Homo sapiens: one gene and its partners. The protein of the gene in region 1 purifies or fractionates together with the protein of each later gene. This does not show direct contact. Each region holds a gene or a part of one and is shown on either strand. Other genes may lie near its edges.

Evidence for each region.
Region 2: the proteins of KCMF1 (region 1) and CEP85 purify together in Homo sapiens (affinity purification with mass spectrometry; 4 studies listed by BioGRID and IntAct, with this or other methods). This does not show direct contact.
Region 3: the proteins of KCMF1 (region 1) and NIPSNAP3A purify together in Homo sapiens (affinity purification with mass spectrometry; 6 studies listed by BioGRID and IntAct, with this or other methods). This does not show direct contact.

What each region holds. Positions count from the first base shown.
Region 1 is NC_000002.12:85,044,141-85,051,168, reverse strand, and holds part of KCMF1 (E3 ubiquitin-protein ligase KCMF1), read right to left. Parts: intron 5,066-7,028; coding exon 4,891-5,065; intron 1,804-4,890; coding exon 1,521-1,803; intron 1-1,520. UniProt on the Homo sapiens protein: E3 ubiquitin-protein ligase which accepts ubiquitin from an E2 ubiquitin-conjugating enzyme and then transfers it to targeted substrates, promoting their degradation by the proteasome.
Region 2 is NC_000001.11:26,237,172-26,244,199, reverse strand, and holds part of CEP85 (centrosomal protein of 85 kDa), read right to left. Parts: intron 6,490-7,028; exon of another isoform or gene 6,312-6,489; intron 4,439-6,311; 5' UTR 4,417-4,438; coding exon 4,362-4,416; intron 35-4,361; coding exon 1-34. UniProt on the Homo sapiens protein: Acts as a regulator of centriole duplication through a direct interaction with STIL, a key factor involved in the early steps of centriole formation.
Region 3 is NC_000009.12:104,750,655-104,757,682, reverse strand, and holds part of NIPSNAP3A (protein NipSnap homolog 3A), read right to left. Parts: intron 6,728-7,028; coding exon 6,517-6,727; intron 4,778-6,516; coding exon 4,619-4,777; intron 3,133-4,618; coding exon 2,983-3,132; intron 1-2,982.

The DNA.
Region 1 (7,028 bases):
GACCTTGCAGAGATAATTCAAAGGTAAATTACCCATTTAAAATGTTTTTCTTGGTTTCATAACAAATGTTGATAACGAGTACCATTAATTGGACCTTTACTATAGGCCAGATAGTGAGCCAGACCATACACATACCAGTATTCCATTTAATCCTCAAAATAATTATCTCTCTAAAGGCAAAACTTCTGGGATACTGATGATAAAATTGAGGTTTGGAGGAGTGAAATGACTTGCCTGAGGTCCAAAACTTGTAATTGGCAAAGCTGGGGCTCTAGCCCAGGGATTTTCAAGCATTTTTTATTCTGCACCCACAATATGTTATTTATAACTATACACATGCACCACTGTATTAACAGAGTATGAGATAAAAGAAACATAAGTAGAAATTATAATATTTTCCTCTAACATCCCAATGAATTGTCATACACACTGCATTTTGGAAATAATCATGTATTACACAAACTTTATTCTTCATTTTACAGTTCTTCCTTTATGTTCCTCTCTGCTCCCTTAAAAGCCCAATTAGTCCAGGTTCATTATCTGTTGAGGCTAAGTCTCCACTCATCATTGCTCTTTTAAGAATTCTTTATATTCCTAAAAGTCACATAAAATGCCTGTGAAGTTTTGGCAGACAAATACATGCAGTTGCTAACAGTTTCAGAAGCAAACAAGAACTCCATCTAGTAGAGTAGTTTACTGTTTTACTAAATATTATTTATACCATAGGAAGCCATTTTTTTAAGTTACTTTTGTGTGCCAACCATAAAAATTTAAATCTAGCTTTTTTAGAAATTCACAGGAGAAAACTGCCACTGTATTATGAAATCCTTCTTATACTTTTAATATTTCAAAGCAGATTAAAACTGGCAATAACAAGCAACGTTAATTATGATAAATACACCTAATATGAACCATATATATATAATGATATAGTGTTTAAGTTTTATGGGTACTATGGCAAAACAATTCATATTATATGATGATATATACCTTGAGAACAAGACCAGTTATTTTATTTTAGAGACAGGGTCTCACTCTTGTCACCCAGGCTGGAGTGCATGGTGCAATCTTGGCTACTGCAACCTCTGTCTCCAGGGCTCAAGCGATCCTCCCACCTCAGCCTCCTGAGTAGCGGGGACTACAGGTGCGCACCATCACACCTGGCTCATTTTTGTAGAGATAAGATTTCATCATGTTACCCAGGGTGGTTTGGAACTCCTGGGCTCTGGCGATCTGCTTGCCTTGGCCTCCCAAAGTGCTGGGATTACAGGTGTGAGGTGCTGGGATTACAGGTGTGAGCCACTGGGTCTGGCCCAGTATTCTTAATTTATCTAAAATAATTACTATGTTTCACATTCTTGGGGAAATACTGAATATGCGTTTTAATCAGAGATCTGTGAGTTTTAATCAAACACAAAATTTTAAAGAAATATAATGCACAAAAGAGAAAAGATAATTCCAGACTGTAGTGGCAATAAAATATTACTTCCCAAACAAAATTCTATTAACAAATGAGCTACCTTGTTAAAAGAAACTGGGAATTCTGTAGAGTCTGCTGACTGCTTTCTGTATTAGCTATGTTGGTTGTTGCTGTGGATTGTGTGATTGTAGTGGTGACACTGCTTGTGTTAGTACGCCGGGTTGCGTTGCGTGCGGTCTCCAGTTGTTGCCGTGCTGCCTGGGCATGCTGCCGTTCTAGCTGCAGCTGCATCTGCAGTTGTTGTAACTGAGAAGCGGAAGGGCCAGAGGAATTAAGCTGTCCTCCTGCAGAACGTCTCACTCCTGATAACTGAGATAAAAGCTCTGCCAATGGAAATGAAGACAATTAATGTCTGCTTAATACTGAGGAAAACAAAACGCTACAGATCACTCTTTTACTGGAACAACATCAAAAGCATTGTGAACAGGTAGGTAACCACCACAGCACACAGTTTAAGAGCTGAATCCTTCTAGAATGCCTCCTGAAGGCAGGAGTTACTGTGGACAGAGAATGCAAATGCATACGAATATTAACCCAGACTGAATTATGTTTGAAGTAAAACTTAAATTGTCTTTAAAATTATTTGCATAATAGACTAATTTAGTGAAGCTTTCTCTTAGTATTTAATGAAGTGGTTTATCTGTGGGCCCAATTATAATATAAGCTCTCTCAATATGTGTTCCATGGAAGCAGGGATGAGGTCTACTGTTGACTATATTCCCAGCTATCAGAACAGGGCCTGATATAGCAGGAATTCAAACATTTACTGAATGACTGAATGAATTATTAGGATTCAGTCCAAGAGGCCTGGATCATTTCTGATGGTGGCCCTTGCACACTCTCTGCCTCTGCTTTCTCCCTCTAGTACCTTCTGGTACTGCTGTTTCAGAGTACCACTGCAGTAGATACCACTACCAGTGCTCAGCAAGGCTGACTGGCTCCTGAGAACCTGCTGCATCTGACTGTACAGCCTACTTAGTGGCCTGTTATGATCCAGACTGTCTTGTGTCCATAAGGCTGTACTCATTAAGAGAGGTGTAAACTTTTGTCCCCGCATCCTCATCTAAGTAAGGTACAGTGAAATGCCTTCTTCCAAGTGGAGGGTCCACCTCGCTTATAGGGAATCGATGACTGCCTTGCAGACACTTTCAGGCCAGCAAAAACTCTTTATCATTAAAACTCATTAACAGTTTGTTTTCTTGCTCACTGTTGCTTTATCCCAGGCTTTTTATAGCACTCTTATACCACTCTTTCATGGAATATACAGTCTATCACTAAAATAAACTAATTTTCACTGACAGAAAAAAAATCAAATGAAGAAAATTTCTCAATTTTGAATTTTGCTCCCAGAAACTACTTTAATTTTTAGTGCCTGCCACCAAAATAGCAGGTAAATATTCCCTTTGGATGAAGAAATATTTTTTAAATCCCCCAAACTCAGTTTATTAGGCTTGTTTTTGTTGTTGCACACACAAATGTCCAAAGCACATTTGGAATTAAAATTTTATATGGTATATCTAACTTTTAAATAACATGATAGGTATAAAATTGTTCTTAGGTTGTTTTTCTTTTTTAAATTTTTATTTTAGGTTTGGGGGTACATGTGAAGGTCCGTTACACAGTTAAACACCTGCCACGAGGGTTTGTCATACATATTATTACATCACCCAGGACCCAATTAAGCCCAGTACCCAACAGTTATCTTTCTGCTCCTCTCTCTCTTGCTACCCTCCCCCAGTGTCTGCTGTCTCCTCCTTTGTGTTCCTAAGTTGTCATTTAGCTCTGATGTTCTCAGTTTCTATTACAGATTTACACTTATCAATGTTTCAGGTGTTCTGCAGGGTGCTCATGGCTTCCAGGTAGGTGCACACTTCACCACATGGACACATTTCAGAATTGTTGCTTTAAATGTGTGCACACTTCCCACTGTCTTACCACTTGTCTGCTTGGTGTGTCTTGCAGATTATCAGGCTACAGTGATTTCTTGTATTTTATTTTGACCCTGTGTTCTGCTACCAACTTCCTAGGTTTGTCATGTACTAGACTCAGTGACATGGCCAGGTTCAAAAACTGTGTTTTTTTTTTTTTTTTTAAGATTTTTCCCAAGCTATTAAACATGTACCTTTCAGTATGTTCTACAACAATATAGTTCTCAAATCAAGGTCAGGACATTAAGTCCTACTTTCCTTTCTTCCATGAGAAGAGCTTAATTCTTTAGTCTTTTCAATTAGCTATAGATAACAGTTCTGAAATGTGTCCATGTGGTGGAATGTGTACCTGGAAGCCATGAGGCGCCTTGCACAACATCTGAGATAGGCATAAATCTGTGACAGAATTTTACACATAACATGTTCTTAAAAATGTTAGCTATACCTTATAAAACCTTAATTTCAAATGTGCTTTGGACATTTTTTTATGTGTACTTATGGAGATTTAACCATGACATTTTGGAGGTATTCAAGTTGAAATCTTTTATGATTTCCTTGGGCTTCAATAGAGGCCACAAATACAACATAAAACCATTTCTTATCATCTTTTGTCTCTAAGAACAGTAGTCTCCCTTTACCTGCAGGAGATACGTTCCAAAACCCCCAGTGAATGGCTGAAATGGGCATTTGGATAATACAGAACCCTATACATACTATGTTTTTTCCTATACATACTTATCTGTTGTGCTAAAGTTTAATTTATAAATTAGGCACCTAATTTATAAATTAGGAACATGAGATTCCCAACAAAATAGAGTAAATCTAAAAATATACTATGAAAGTTATGTGATGTGGTCTCTCTCTAAGTATCTTATTGTCCTGTACTCACCTATTTTTTGACTGTAGTTGGTTGTGGGTAACTGAAACCCAGGAAAGCAAAACCACATGACGGGGGGACTACTGGACTTAAGCAATGCCAGAAGAGTATGAATTACTTTATGTTAAGTGTCTGCTTTTAACACATTTTACACTTTTAATGTATTTGGGAATTTTGTGAAGGAACATGGCTTATGATCAGAGAGGTGAGACTTAAGAACACAAATCTCACAAAAAGTTTTTTTTTTTTTTTTTGAGACAGGGTCTCACTCCATCACCCAGGCTGGACTGCAGTGGTGCGATCTCGGCTCCCTGGAACCTCCACCTTTCAGGCTCAAGCGATTCTCATGCCTCAGCATCCAGAGTAGCTGCGATTACAGGCACCCACCACCAAATCTGGCTAATTTTTTTATTTTTAGTAGAGATGGAGTTTTGCCATGTTGGCCAGGCTGGTCTTGAATTCCTGGCCTCAAGTGATCCACCCGCTCCAGCCTCCCAGAGTGCTGGGATTAAAGGTGTGAGCCACCGCACCTGGCATCACAAAAAGTTTTAAAAGGAGCTCCTCCTTCCCCTGCCATTTCCCTTATTAATGTGAAACTAACTTACCAGCTATAGGATCCATGGCTTCCCTATTGCTTGGAGAATATGAACTCTGAGAAGAAGAAAGTCCACCAGTAGAACTGCTAGTAAAGTGCATGTTTGATCTACGAGCACGAGGACCTCCTAATCCCCGGCCAGGGTGAAACATTCTACGTACATGTCGAACACCACTCGATTCATCATAACCCAAAAGTTAAGAAAAAAACGAAAGTATTTCACAGAAAGAAAAAAAATCACCTGAGTCCTTGCTAGACAGATGTAAAGATTTCCTGAATTGTAAGCATTTAAAAACAGCACATTTAACTTAAAGTGCAAATGTCCCAACTCTATCTATGAGGGCTATTAACCCTAAAAAGACACTCAAATGTAAGGCAACATGTGAGTGTGTGTGTGTGTATTGGGTGTGTGAGGTAAAAAAGTTTCTCTATATAGCTCATGAAATCTCAAATACCACCTATAATGAAAAAGGAACAATACTGAATGTATATTCAGCACATCAAAGGTTCCTTTTGGATTATTAGTTTTACTCTGTCTTCAAGCTTCTTTCCAATGCCGCTGCTAAGCAGAAAACAGATTTGCATTTCTTGTATAAGACACACAGATAGATTAACATGACATTTATCACGAAGAAAAATTCCCAGCAGCCTCAACCGTCTTACACAGCTGAGTGTAAGTCAAACTGAAAAAGGTCCTGAGTTGCAAATAGCTGTCAAAACTCATGAAGACAACCTTACGTTTCCACAAAGGCAAATGAGAGGTGGGGGAGGCCAGATCATATAGAAGAGATTTTTCCTTTAAAGTACCAAACAGACCAGCTTTATAATGCAGATTAATTTTTTGGCTGGCTTCTCAGTTTTTCAGCTGATGGTTCTGGAGTTATTTAAGGACCGGATGGGTAGCTCCAAGAGGCCTTCAGGTGTCACGGTACATGCCCTGTTCCATCATATTCATGAGGATGGTTTGGGTTCTAGAGAAAGTGATATGATCATATTTATATATTTGATAATTTTATATTATGATTATATATACATATATATATGTATCTTGAGACAGGGTCTCACTTTGTTGCCAGGCTGGAGTGCAGTGGTGCAATCATAGCTTACTGCAGCCTTGAGCTCATGGGCTCAAGTGATCCTCCTACCTCAGCCTCTTGAGTAGCTGGGACCACAGGTGTGTGCCACCAGCTGAGCTCATTATTTTGGTAGAGATGGGGTCTTCCTATGTTGTCCAGGTTGGTTTCAAACTTCTAGGCTCAAGTGATCCTCCCACCTTGGCCTTTCAAAGTGCTGGGAGTATAGGCATGAGCCACTGTACCCAGCTGGTGACAGTTTTAGACGAACAATTCATAACCTGAAATCAGAAGCATTGAGTCCACAAAATTAATCGCTCTGGTAGGCCAGTAATCTCAGGGAACACTGCCAGAAACTGTTGAGAGACAAGGAAGGGAATGCAGAAATAAAAGCAAGAGGCTGGGCGTGGTGGCTCACGCCTGAATCCCAGCACTTTGGGAAGCTGAGGTGGGCAGATCACCTGAGGTCAGGAGTTCGAGACCAGCCTGGCCAACATGGTGAAACCCCATCTCTACTAAAAAAATACAAAAATTGGCCAGGCGCAGTGGTTCATGCCTGTAATCCCAGCACTTTGGGAGGCTGAGGCAGGCAGTCAGGAGTTCAAGACCAGCATGGCCAAGAGACCAGCCTGGCCAATATGGTGAAACCCCATCTCTACTAAAAATACAAAAATTAGCTGGGTGTGGTGGCGGGCACCTGTAATCTTAGCTACTTGGGAGGCTGAGGCAGGAGAATTACTTGAATCCAGGAGGTGGAGGTTGCAATAAGCTGAAGATAGCACCATTGTACTCCAGCCTGGCTGACAGAGCAAGACTCCGACTTTTAAAAAAAAAAGAAAAGAAAAGAAAAGCAGGAAAGGAAATTTAAAGCTAGAGCTGACCTTATGCTATCCTACTCAGGAACTCGGCAGGAAATGGCTCTCTCTGGAGAAGGGGACCCCAAAAAGGAAAGGAACACCAAGATGCACACCTGTCCCCACCATCTCACCACACCACACCCACAACAGGGTAAGGCAGCAGAGGAACAGAGAGGGAAAGCAAATAATGCCTCTTCATATTTAACTAATTAAATTTT
Region 2 (7,028 bases), on another chromosome or scaffold:
CCCAGGGAACTGCCCTTCTGAATCACATCGGAACCTGAAACAAGAGGCATTTCCCACCTTTACTGTGAACCAGCTGATGTAACCCCATCAGATCTTTTTTTAAAAAATCACATAAACCTAAGAGAATAGCAGCAACCCACCCCTTTCTCTCTCCTGTGCCTATTTCAGCTGCTCCGATCTAGTTTTTTTTTTTTTTTTTTTTTTTTTTGAGACGGAGTCTGCTCTGTCACCCAGGCTTGAGTGCAGTGGCGCGCAGCTCACTGCAGCCTCCACCTCCTGGGTTCAAGCAATTCTCTGCCTTAGCCTCCCGAGTAGCTGGGATTACAGGCGCCCACCACCACGCCCAGTTAATTTTTATATTTTTAGTAGAGACGCGGTTTCACCATCTTGGCCAGGCTGGTCTTGAACTCCTGATCTCATAATCCACCCGCCTTGGCCTCCCAAAGTGCTGGGATTACAGGTGTGAGCCACTGCGCCAAGCCTGAGCTAGTTAATTTTAAGTGGAAATAGTATGAGAAGTGAGAATATTCAAAGATGTTAATAAGACCCATGAAGAATCCAGGAGTACTGGAACAGAAAACAATCATATTTAATAGCAGTGGCCATTTATTGAAACCTGTAAAGCCACAGGACCTTACAAACATAATCTTGCCTACCTACTTACTGAAAAGTATTACCACCCCTATTTTACAGAGGGGAGGGCTGATATTTGAATCCAGTTCTTTCTGATTCCAAAACCCACATTCTTTCCTCTTTCTTACAGTTTCTCAATGGTGCTTTTGGCATTCTGGGGATGACCATTCTTCAATGTGTAGTCTATACATTACAGAATGGTTTAGCATCCCTGGTTCCCACTCACTGAATGCCAGCAGCAACCCTCAACCAAGACCACCATCACTGTGAAACCAGAAAATAACCATATAGTTCCAAATGATTCCTAGGGCAACAAGCAGTCCAGTCCCCAGTTGAAAATCATTGCTTCGAGGTTGCAGTGAGCAAAGATTGCGCCACTGCACTCCAGCCTAGGCAACAAGAGCGAAACCCCATCTCAGAAAAAAAAAAAAAAAAAAAGAAAATCACTGCTTCACTGAACCAGGGTACCCTCAATAGGTGAATCCTATTGAGATCAAGGTGAGTTTTGAAAGTCAATCTGAAGAGCCTAGGGCTTTATCTTGAGAGCAACGTGAAGATATCACTAAAACTGCTGAGAAGGTTAAGACAAAAAGACTGATGAGATTTATTTGATTTAAAATATGCTGTTTGGGGGGAGGTAGGTAGGAAGTGTTCAATAAATACTTGATTCACTAACATTCTAGCAAAGACTTAAATTTATTTTCTAAAAACCACTATAATTTTCCTAAGGTGTATCTGGTGATCCATGTAAACAAATAAACAAACAAACAAAAAAACTAATGGCAGCTACTTATCCTCCATTTAACTTAAAGTGTGAAAGCCGATTTCAGAAAATACGGTTCTACAGACTCGCTGATCTAGTGGGAGGCAAATGATTGCTCCCACTAAATGATTACGCCCAAAGTAATTTGGACACAAATTACTTTATTCCTTTCTTCCAAGTTTAGTGCTTCTCTCATCTTTTTAATCTATTTTCTTCTACTTTTGCTCATTTTTTGCTACCCTTACTTTGGCTTTCTACTGAAGGCAACCTGACTTTCCCCAAATACTTCTTCTATTCTTTGGATCACAGTGACTGCCTGATTTGAAAGAATCTTTATACACTCAGTAATCTGTAATTGTTATAGAAGACACAGGCAACAATCCGAGTTTCTGAGCGGCATGAGATTAGCCAATGCTACTATACTAAGTTGGTGTAATTCTAGCCCAAAGCAAAGAAATCCCACCTTCTGGTGAGTCTACACAGCTTTTTCTCTCTAGTCAGTGTAAAATTTGCCAGGCCTTTTGAAACAGTTAAGATTGAGGGCCTCTATTACCATCTTCCTGACTTCCTACTGGAAACCGCTTCCCTGTTACTACTACTAATCTTCCACTCTTCATCGCTACCATTTTTCCATCCACCTACTCCATACCCTAATTCCAAAGAGTTATTTGTTAAAAATATATTTTGGTATATTTATAGAGGTTTACACTTATTTCAAAATTGAAGTTTAAATGCTGAAGTTGGCCGGGTGCAGTGGCTCATGCCTGTAATCCTAGCACTTTGGGAGGCGGGGGTGGGCAGATTACCTGAGCTCAGGAGTTGGAGACCAGCCTGGGCATATGGCGAAACCCGTCTCTACTAAAAATACAAAAAAATTAGCCAGGTGTGGTGGTGCATGCCTGTAATCCCAGCTACTTGGGAGGCTGAGGCACAAGAATCACTTAAACCCAGGAGACAGAAGTTGCAGTGAGCTGAGATTGTGCCACTGCACTCCAGCCTGGGCCACAGAACAAGACTCCGTCTCCAAAAAAAAAAAAGAAAAGCTGAAATTTTTTGTGTTATAGTGCATGTCCTATCAGTAGCATCCTTATCAATTATTAAGACCATTATTAATCTGAATGAGATACTATTGAAGAGAGAAAAAAGCCATAGGAAAGGCATTGTTCCAAAAACTTGCATTATATACATAATTGTCATAGAAACTGTACAAACCTAAGAGAATGTGCAGCACATAGCAGATGTTTAAAAAATATTTCCTGAGGCCGGGTGCAGTGGCTCACGCCTGTAATCCCAGCACTTTGCGAGGCCCAGGCGGGCAGATCACAAGGTCAGGAGATTGAGACCATCCTGGCTAACATGGTGAAACCCCGTCTCTATTAAAAAATGCAAAAAAATTAGCTGGGCATGGTGGCGGGCACCTGTAGTCCCAGCTACTTGGGAGGCTGAGGCAGGAGAATGGCATGAACCCGGGAAGCGGAGCTTGTAGTGAGCCGAGATCACGCCACTGCACTCTAGCCTGGGTGACAGAGCGAGACTCCATTTCAAAAAAAAAAAAAAAATTCTGCTGAATGAATCTTGAATTGATTCAACCAAAGCTTATAATGGTGCCTACTCTATGCAAGGCAGCATGCCTAAGAGAATACACCAAACATTTACCAAATATCTACGCTGAGTAAGGCACTGTGAGATTTTAAAGTTAAATAAAACATACCCTGAGTTGAATTAAACGTGCCCTCTTCTTTACCAATACCCCAGAATTCAACAAGTCATTTTTCTAAAATATTACTTATTTGAAATATATATTATCTACTTAATATGCCTGCACAGTGCATACATATATTTATGTGTTTAATATACAGTCAGCTCTCCATATCCATGGTTTCTTTTTTTTCCCCTTTTTTTTTTTGAGACACAGTCTCACTCTGTTGCCCAGGCTGGAGTGCAGTGGCGTCATCTCAGCTCACCTCAACCTCTGCTTCCCGTGTTCAAGTGATTCTCCTGCCTCAGCCTCCCAAGTAGCTGGGATTATTATAGGCACATGCCACTGCACCCGGCTAATTTTTGTATTTTTAGTAGACATGGAGTTTTACCATGTTGGCCAGGCTGGTCTCAAACTCCTGACCTCAGGTGATCCACCCGCCTTGGGCTCCCAAAGTGCTGGGATTACAGGCATGAGCCACAGCGCCTGGCCATATCCGTGGTTTCTACGTTTGTGAATTCAACCAATTTTTTTTTTTAATGGTATCTTACTGAATGTGCATAAGACTTGTTTTTCTTCTTATTCCCCAAACAATACAGTATAACTATTTACATAGCATTTACATTGCATTGGGTATTACAAGTAATCTAGAGACGATTTAAGGTAAACATTAGGATATACACAGGTTATATGCAAATACCACACCATTTTATATCAGGGACTTGAGTATCTGTGGATTTTGCTATCTGCAGGAGGTCTTGGAACCAGTCCGCCATGGACACTTAAGGACTGTATATATTTAATATATCTACTGAAGTTTCAAAATCTTGTTAATCCATTCTGAAGATAAATTCCTGAGTTTCTAGTAACAATGCAACGGAATCTGTTGGCATCCAAGCAGAATTCCTATTTTTGTGGGCTAGCAGATGACTGACCCACCCAGAGGACAAAGACAACATAGAACACAGTAATTTATGCTGTGTTTTTCTGATTTCAAATGGAACTATGTTCCAAAGTCATTCTGTTCCAATCCTTTATATGTCGTCCTCTCCCAACCACGTGGTCCTGTTGAAAGCCACATAGCACAAGAGATAAATACTTGTTCCCTCAGAGACCTGTTTTTATATTCAATGAAGCCCCATGTTATTTTTATTCTTTTAGCACCAGCATTTCAGTGAATGCTTGTTTGTTCAATATTTACCTTAAGGAATATGAAAAAACAGAACAAAGGTCAGAATTTAACCCAGAAAACTTCTGACTACTCACTCGGTGAAGTGACGTGAGAGATCCCCTCAGTTGGATATTTCTCCTGCATGGCCATCAATCACAGTTATTTAAGCCAACTGTAGAATGAAGGAATAACCAGTCAGTTCTCTGAAGTATCTTTAATTCCCCGCAACTCAGTTCCCATTCAACTGAAACTGTCAAAACCATATAGAATATTCAAGTATTTGGCCAGGCACAGTGGCTCACACCTGTAATCCCAGCACTTTGGGAGGCCAAGGCGGGCAGATCAACTGAGGTCAGGAGTTCGAGACCAGCCTGACCAACATGGGGAAACCCCATTTCTACTAAAAACACAAAAATTGGCCGGGCATGGTGGCACACATCTGTAGTCCCAGCTACTTGGGAGGCTGAGGCACAAGGATTGCTTGAACCCGGGAGGCAGAGGTTTCAGTGAGCCAAGATCACACCACTGCACTCCAGCCTGGGCAACTGAGCAAGACTCCATCTCAAAAAAAATAAAAAAGAATATTCCAGTATTCTAAATGTTATATTCCTAAGGATATTTAGGAGTAAATATGTTTTTACATGTTTTACTTCTAAGGATATTTTTAAGACAAAGTAAATCCCAATACTCCACTCTACTTCTCTTCCCAAATCCAGTATAGAAAACCTAGAACCAGAGATTACCAATACAGATTCCATACGGTCCTAGAACCCTTCTGATTTTTATAAAATTTAAAAATATTACTTTTAATTAACAAACTTTACCATGAATCTTCTTAGCCATGGGGACCTGATGACAGGACGAGGTGGATAAAGAACTAAAGAACTAAACCAACAGTGAAGTATTACAGCATCAATTATGATTAACACAAAACAAATTCCTCAATTCTTCCAGTAATTAAAGTCAGTCATACGATGTAAAAAGATGGGAAAGAATTCTTGCTCATAAGTAGAACTCCAATCCTGAGCTAGGAACGTGAAGTTCTCGTCCCATGTTCTCACTCCTTAAAATATTTATATTTACAGTACACTAGGGGTAGGTGCTGAGAATTCAGCAGAAGTGGATTTGAAGTCTAAACAAATACACTTGAACCCACTAAACATTAAGTTATCAATTTATTAGCTGTGTAACCTTGGGCAAATTTCTTAGTATCTCTGTTCCTCATTTTCTTCATATAAAAATGAGGATAACAACACAACCTAATTCATGTTAATTCACTTATAATTAACTTACAACAGTTCCTGACACATACTAAGTGCTGTTATTACTTGGCAATTTACATCAACAAAAGTAGCACTGTACAGCCCATGGAAGATCAAGGAGTATCAACTCAGAAACTCTAAATTTATAAAAGCCCCAAAAGAGTTTGGGACAATTCGGCCGGGCTCAGTGGCTCACGCCTGTAATCCCAGCACTTTGGGAGGCCGAGGCAGGCGGATCACCTGAGGTCAGGAGTTCGAGACCAGCCAACATGGTGAAACCCCGTCTCTACTAAAAATACAAAAATTAGCCAGGCATGGTGGCAGGCGCCTGTAATCCCAGCTACTTGGGAGGCTGAGGCAGGAGAATCGCTTGGACCATGGAGGCGGAGGCTGCAGTGAGCCAAGATCGCGCCATTGCACTCCAGCCTGGGCGACAGAGCAAGACTCCGTCTCAAAAAAAAAAAAAAAAGAGTTTGGGACAATTCACAGAACATAATTCTATCACTCTGGAGAAAAAAGACTATATGGTACTATTTCTCTAATGTACTTTAGTGACCTCTATAGTATTCTCTTGTTACTAAGAGAATACTATAGAGGTCACTAAAGTACATAACAACCCAAACCCTTATTAATTCACTGCATCTACAATAGAAAGGGTATCATCCTCCACAATTCCAGTTCTTCACATACTGGGTGAGGGAAGCTTTGTTCAGTAATAAAAGCTTTAGTTTATGGCAAGTATGATTCAGTGAGTTAAATGATGACATAGAATGATTAGATTACCTCCTTACTAGTGATTTCCTTTCTTGTCAATATCAAAATCCTTTTCTTCACTCCTTTCTTTAAAGGATAACAAAATGGTAGGCGCACTGGATTCTAAGGTGTTTCTAAATTCAGACAAGTTGAAAATACGGTGACAGAAGGAGAACTCCGAGTTACCCTATGACTCAGCAATTCCACACTGAAGTATACACCCAAGAGAAATGAAAACACAGGTTTACACAAAAGCTTCAATAAGAATGTTCGTAGCAGCATTATTTACAATAGCCAAAAAGTGGAAACAACACAAACGTCCATGAGCTAATGAATGGATACATAAAATGTGGTATATCCAAAAAACAGAGTATTATTCAGCAATAAAAGGAAGTACTGATACATGTGACAACATGGATGAACACTGAAGACATGCAAAGTCAAAGAAGCCAAACAAAAGGCTTGATCCTATTTATATGAAATGTCAGAATAGGCAAATCCATAGAGACACAGATTAGTGATTGCAAAGGACTGAGAGGAGGGAGGGTAGGAGAATAGGAAGGGACTGCTAATGGATACCGGGTTTCTTTTCAGGGTGATCAAAATGTTCTGAGATTAGATAGTGGTGACTGACTGCACAACCTTGCCAATATATTAAAAACCTCTGAATTGCACACACATAAAATTAAATTTTATGTTATGTGATATAAGCCAAAAAAAAAATTCTAAGACATCCCCAACCACCTG
Region 3 (7,028 bases), on another chromosome or scaffold:
ACATGTATATCGATTTCTGTATTACGTATGTATTACATAAAGAAGGTCATACTACATTTCCAATGTTTCTTTAATGTAAACAATATTAACATAAACTTCATTTGAGCACAACTATGTGTTTATAATAATACTTTCGATGACAACTACTGACATTTATTGAATGATAACTATGTGTCAGGCCTAGTTTTAAGCATTTTAATGTATTAACTCATTTAATCCTCATAATAATCTAGGTCCTCATAATAATCTATCATTTTATAGATGAAAAAACTAAGGTATGGTGAGGTTTACTTACCCAAAGTCAAAAAGTAAGTAGTGTACCTGGGATTCAAACCCAGGCAGTCTGAATCTGATTATTTCCTTAATATAAAGTAGAATTTAAGTTGACAGAACCAAAGAGCATGTCTTATATATATGTACTTACATATAGTGTATATAGTATACACTGTCCTCCAGAAATGATGTACTGATTACCAATTCTCCTAACACTGAGAATGAATTTAAGATTAAAAAGTGTATGAACACACATTTTCTGTAGTTTTTAAAAAAATAAAACTTAATATGTGCAGTATAGAAAATTAAGGTAGAGGCTAGGTGTAGTGGCTCAGGCCTCTTATCCCACCACTTTGGGAGGCCGAGGCGGGCGGATCACCTGTGGTCAGGAGTTTGAGACCAGCCTGGTGAAATCCTGTCTCTACTAAAAATACAAAAATTAGCTGGGCATGGTGGCACACAGCTGTAATCCCAGCTACTTGGGAGGCTGAGGCAGGAGAACCGCCTGAACCAAGGAGGCGGAGGTTGCAGGGAGCTGAGATCGTACCTGCACTCCACAGAGCGAGGCTCCATCTCAAAAAAAAAAAAAAAAAAAGAATATTAACATAGAGACTTAACCATTTATCTCACTGAAATATGACTACTATGTATGTTATATACTTTCAAATTTCTTTTCTGTATAATTTAGCACACCTATACACATACACACCCAGGCATATTTTCTAGAAGTAATACTGGCAAAAACAATAAAAATAAGGCTTTTATTTTTATTGTCAAATTTTGGGGGAAGATTAAGCTAATATGAACCCTACACAGTATCTGAGTACTTATTTTTTCCTGACCTAATACTATATCCATGTAAGTATACCTTTTATAAGGTAAAGAAATGGCATCTCATTATTGTTTTAATATGCATTTTCTTTAATATATATTTAGTAGCCATGTGCATGTCTACTTTTGCATAAATTTTTATTTTTATTTTTGCTTTTGAATTTCATTTATGGTGATTTTCAGGCATCCAGATAGTTTGAGCCTTTGTATAATAAAATCATAAGTTGATTTTTTTTTCTTCATAGTTTCTTCATTTGCTTTTGGCTTACAAATATAGTCCCAATCCACATTATTAAATAAATTCATCTACATTTTGTTTTACCAATTTTATGAATTAAATTTTTTTCATTAAAATATACAATCCAGCTTGACTTTATTTTCGCATATGGTGTGAGATAGGCATCTAATAATTTTCATAACAGTTTCTCCTCCATGTATTTTCCAACCTGAATATACATCTGTTTTTATATATTCTATTTTCTTATGATAGATTATTACAAGAAGTTGAATTTCTGCATAAAGATGGGTATATTAGGTTTGAGATGTCCATTGGACATAAAGAGATAATAGAAAGGCAACAGGATATTATGATGAGTCTTTCAAATATTTGTTAGCTATTCTTAGACATTTATCCTTTCTTCGTTACTTTTTTTTTTTAAGAGACAGGGTCTCACTATGTCGTTCAGGGGTTGGAGTGCAGTGGTGCAATCATAGCTTACTGTAGCCTTGAACTCCTGGCTCAAGCAATCCTCCCACCTCAGCCTCCCAAGTAGCTAGGACTACAGGTGTTTGCCACCATGCCCAACTAATTCTTAAAATTTTTTTTGTAGAGACAAGCTGTGTTGCCCAGGCTAGTCGTGAACTCCTGGGCTTAAGCAATCCACCAGCCTCAGCCTCCCAAAAGCGCTGGAATTACAGGTATGAGCTACCTCATCAGCTCTTTTATCCTTTCAGATAAACTTTACAAATGTTTTTCTGAATTTGCCACAAAAAATCTTGAAATTCTGATTGAAATGTTTTTCAACATTACAAGTTAAATACCCCAAGTATGTGTTTTATTAAATAAATTTATATCCATATATAAATTTACCTCAATATATATACATATTTACTATATCTCCCTATATAGATATATATAAAACTGGTGGAAAATGGGTAAATTTTTATGAGGGGGGTTTTCATATTTATACAAAACATATATTACTTTTTTGCTTAGAGATAATCTCCCTACCCCAAATAATATTATTTTTAAAAAATCAATAAAAGTACATTCAGAGGAAAAAGAAATGATGAAAGTAACAGACTATTTCTTGAGGTTCCTTCATTTTTTTTTTTTTGAGATGGAGTTTTGCTCTTGTCACCCAGGCTGGAGTGCGATGGCACGATTTTGGCTCATTGCAACCTCCGCTTCCTGGATTCAAGTGATTCTCCTGCCTCAGCCTCCAGAATAGCTGGGATTACAGGCCCCCACCACCATGCCTGGCTAATTTGTTCTATTTTTACTAGAGACGGGGTTTCACCATGTTTGCCAGGCTGGTCTCGAACTCCTGACCTCAGGTGATCCACCCCCTCAGCCTCCAAAAGTGCTGGGATTACAGGCCTGAGCTACCGTGCCCAGCCGAGGTTCCTTCAGTTTAAAAAATTTAATCATTTTGATGTATCAGGGAAAACAGCTATTCAGCATTTGAAGGTTTCATAAGTTAACATTCTAAATAAATAAGATGTAAAACAGATTTTCTCAATTTTAAAAATTACAAAAAACTAAACATTTGGCAATAAATAATAAAACATACTCTATAATGAGAAAGAACCTGACCCAAGGAACTTAGGTCACAATATATATTACAATTTCATATAAGAAGAAATGGACAATTGTACCTCTGTTGAGTGCTCCGTACTCTGTGTGGAACACTCCAACTAGTTTTGTGTAGCCTAGATTGACATGAGCATGAACTGCCCTTTTAAATGCATCACCCCACAGAGCTGGCCCACCAGGTTTCATCTGAAAAGTGGCCAGTTCATAGACTCCTGGAATAGGGAGAAAAAGAATTTTTCAGAAAACATTCAAGCAATATCCAATCACGTTTCTCAGTGAATAGTCTTTCACTATCTACACACACAGATTTGGAGGATCAGACATGCATACATATTATGTAGACATGTTTATTATATTTGCACTCTCTGCTTTTATGCTTAGAAAGTCCTTGCCCATGTTTAAGAGTGAGTTGTTATGCTTAATCATACAGATGACAAAGAAAAAGAACTGGAAGCTATTATAACTATTATCTGAAATATTTTTAATCTATAACATTTGTTAAAAAACTGTTGAGAATGTATAATGATATAGAATTTTGAGCTGCAAAAGTCTATGCTTTTAGAAAATAAAAGAATAAAAGAAGAATTTTCCAATCTATATTTTCATTCTTTCCAATTTCCACTATGTTTTTCTTCATATAATTTCTCCCTATAAGTTTCCATTTTTAACAGGAACAGCAAAGCAAAGAGTGGACCTGAAGTGATATCTTTGAATTTTGGAGGAAAAAAGACAAACCTAAAGAGATGGTTTTATTTTTCCTAAATATCCAGGTAAATACTTGAAAAGTATTGTACACTTTGGACAGAAGTATAGGGCTGGTGGAGAGAAAGAAACTCTGGGACAAGTAGGAAAAGCATGTAAAAATTTCCAAGCAGTGATGTACACAGAGGAGGAGAACCAAGATTTGACACTGTCAGAGAAGTGAACTATTTTATTTAGATAGTGCTGAGAGCTGAGGGGACACCTAAGTAGGTAAAGATCCAAGGAAGACTTTGTAAATTTTTTGTAACCTAAATACACTACAAAGTTGGGAATAATGGGGGAAGTAAAATAACATTTAAATAAGTTTATGCTTTTCTAATCTGACCTTTATTTAAAACTGGATTGAGGTAATAGTTTCTTTAAGTCAGCAAGAAGTGAAATCAGCAAGAAGACAAATCTTAAGCAATTACTTTCAAACTGAGAAACAAGAAAGAAGACACAAAAGTTAGATTAAAGTAATATAGCTTGGCAGTTTCACTTAATCTGTTTCCCCCAAATACTCAGTTTTATAAGCAAAGCTGTATTTAATGATTTAAGATTAGTTATAATTTATGGAAATACTTTTACATTTTAAAGATCATATTATTTTAAAATTATGGCAAAACTTCTTATGCTATCCCTTACCTATCAACACGTTCTCTGCTCCCAATGCACAAATTCTCAACCTCTACTGACCATGTCAGCTTTCTCTATAACACAGTTAAGCTTTACAAATCTGCAAGGTCTCAATTTGAAAAATATCTCATTATTTTATGCTCATTTTTTTAAAGGATGGGGTAAGAGCTCCCATTTATTTTTACCACAACAATCACTGTATGTTTCTATATAAAACAAAGAATTAATTTTATTTTTTTCCAAAGGAACTTCAGTTTTGATCACTTAAGTTCTTTAGTATTTTATTCATCAAAACTCAGTGACTAAGAAGGAAGGACTTACCTTCTTTTGGAGGTTTTTCTAATTTGCACCATGGTACCAGATAAGTAATCTCACTCTCTTGTTTATCAATGAGAGCCAAATTTGGAATGAGGAATTGTTCTTGCCATTCCTTATCTTTGGCCAAGGCTTTCCGAACTTCAGTTCGATGAGCAAAATTATCTGTGGGAAGAAAAGAATTAAGAAAAATAAAAAATTCAATTTTAAATCACCTGTACTTTTCTGGGTTTCATTCACATCAGCAATGGTCATTGATGCCATATAAGAACCTTGTGTTAGGCCTTTGGAGACACCAACGTAAACAGATGTGACCATCTGCCCTGAAGTTGCTCAAGGACAAAAAGGGCAGTAGAAATGCAAACTAACTGTAATGCCACATAATAGGCTTTATAGGCTCAACCATATAGTAGGCAGTTTTGTGAATTAGGTAAGTTATTGAATCTTTCTGTGCCTCACTTTCTGTGAAATTGAGATAATAAGACATCTACCTCCAGGGTTGTATGAGGATTAAATTAACACATGAAAAGAGTTTAGAATATAGCGGTTGGCACTAGTTAATACTCAGTATATGTGAACTATTCTTACTTGATTGAGGCATTTAACTTATAGTGCTAGTTTAGAGAAAGACTGTTTTTCTTTGGTGGTGGTGGGTAGTCAAGTTCAGATACACCCTGAATCAAATTTAACATGAGTGAAGTTAAAACATCTTGAATCAAATTTAACATGAGTGAAGTTAAACCGTACTTTTTAAGCCTCTTCTCCTTTGAACAAACAGATTTCAAAGAAATAATGCTGATTCTCTTATTGTCATCCATTCTTTCTCCCCAGCACTTATTTCTCTTCTATTTAAGTTACCCAAACAGTTATATACATTTGCCAACATATGGGCCTAGTACTATAATTACCATTAGGACCTCATAAGACTAATGGCAAGAGAGGTTCATATGGTTTACATTGGGATAAGGAAGAATACCTATCTTACAACTTAAGTGAGGTATATCAGAACTTAGTTTTTTTAATGGGCTGTGATACAACTTGTACCACATCTAAAGCATAAAATGTATTTTAATGGGGCTTTTTCTATTAACAGGGAAAAACCCTAAACCAAACACTAAATGAAATTATTAAAAATTCTTTAGGTATCATCAAGTCCTGATGTAGACACTGGAGTAACAAGCATTCTGGGCATTCTTGTAACTTATTCTCCTTCCTCTACTAAACCAGGCGTAGGTTAGTTTCAACACGGGAAGAACTCTCTTTCATTCCTTTTCTTTTACCTCCCTAGAGTAGTATGACAGTGAATTCCTCAAAACTCTGGGGGTACAGATATGAAACAAATGTGGTCTCTAAACATAACAGAATTATTAAATCTCAGAGTTCAGTGAGGATTGAAAGTTAACCATCATCCCCTATAAACCTCCATATTGTGAAGTCCCTTAAATGGTTGAATTATTTCTGCTAAAATACTGATATCCAGCCCCCTAGCTTCAAAAAGAGAAAAGATACTTCTCCTTTCCTTTTGTGATCTTAATCCACTTGGACTTTTACAATTGCTGCTTTAAATTTTTCATGAACTATCTTTACAGCAAACCATTTTAATATTTTTCTGAGGTTTAAAGTCTAGTTCACAATTTTATCGCTTGATATATGAGATGCCATGTCTTCCAATTTATAATGTAATATAATGTAATGTTTAAGCAAGGGGTTAGAGGTGTACCACTGGGAAGAATAAGAACTGAATTTATTTTTTTGGTATTGCTTTTCAAAAGTCTTAGTTAACCTGTATGTATCTAAAATAATATACATCCAAGAACTAAGTTTTATGTTACATTTAACAGAATGAAAATCTATACTGAAAAATGAAAATCTATACTGAAAGCCAAAATTGGATGACTCTTTACCATACTTCCAAATATGAAACACTGTATTCATTCTGCCTCCAAATTCTACACTCCAGTATCCAACCAATTCAGAGTGAGCTGTCCGAAGATGAGCGTTTTTCTCAAAATTTTCCAGGAACTCATTCATCTTTGAGGGCTTAAGGTAATAAGAACGAAATTCATAGAATATTCCATCGTATTGTCTGGGTCCCGTAGCAAAAGATGAGCACATCTGAAGAAGATAAGACAAATGTAAATATCTTGAGAAGACAGGATTCATTATATTGTGTTAAAACCTAATCTGAATCTGGTACAAGGGACACTCATAGACTCATTACTCATGTTTGTACTTCTGTTGTCAATTCTCAATATGTTACTGATGGAGGGTGTCCAGGTTCTTGGTGTTTGAACAAAGAACTGGACAAAATGCACAAAGCAAGGAAAGAATGAAGTAACAAAAGCAGAGATCTATTGAAAATGAAAGCACACTCCACAGGGTAGGAGTGGGCCTGAGCAAGTGGCTCAAGGGCCCT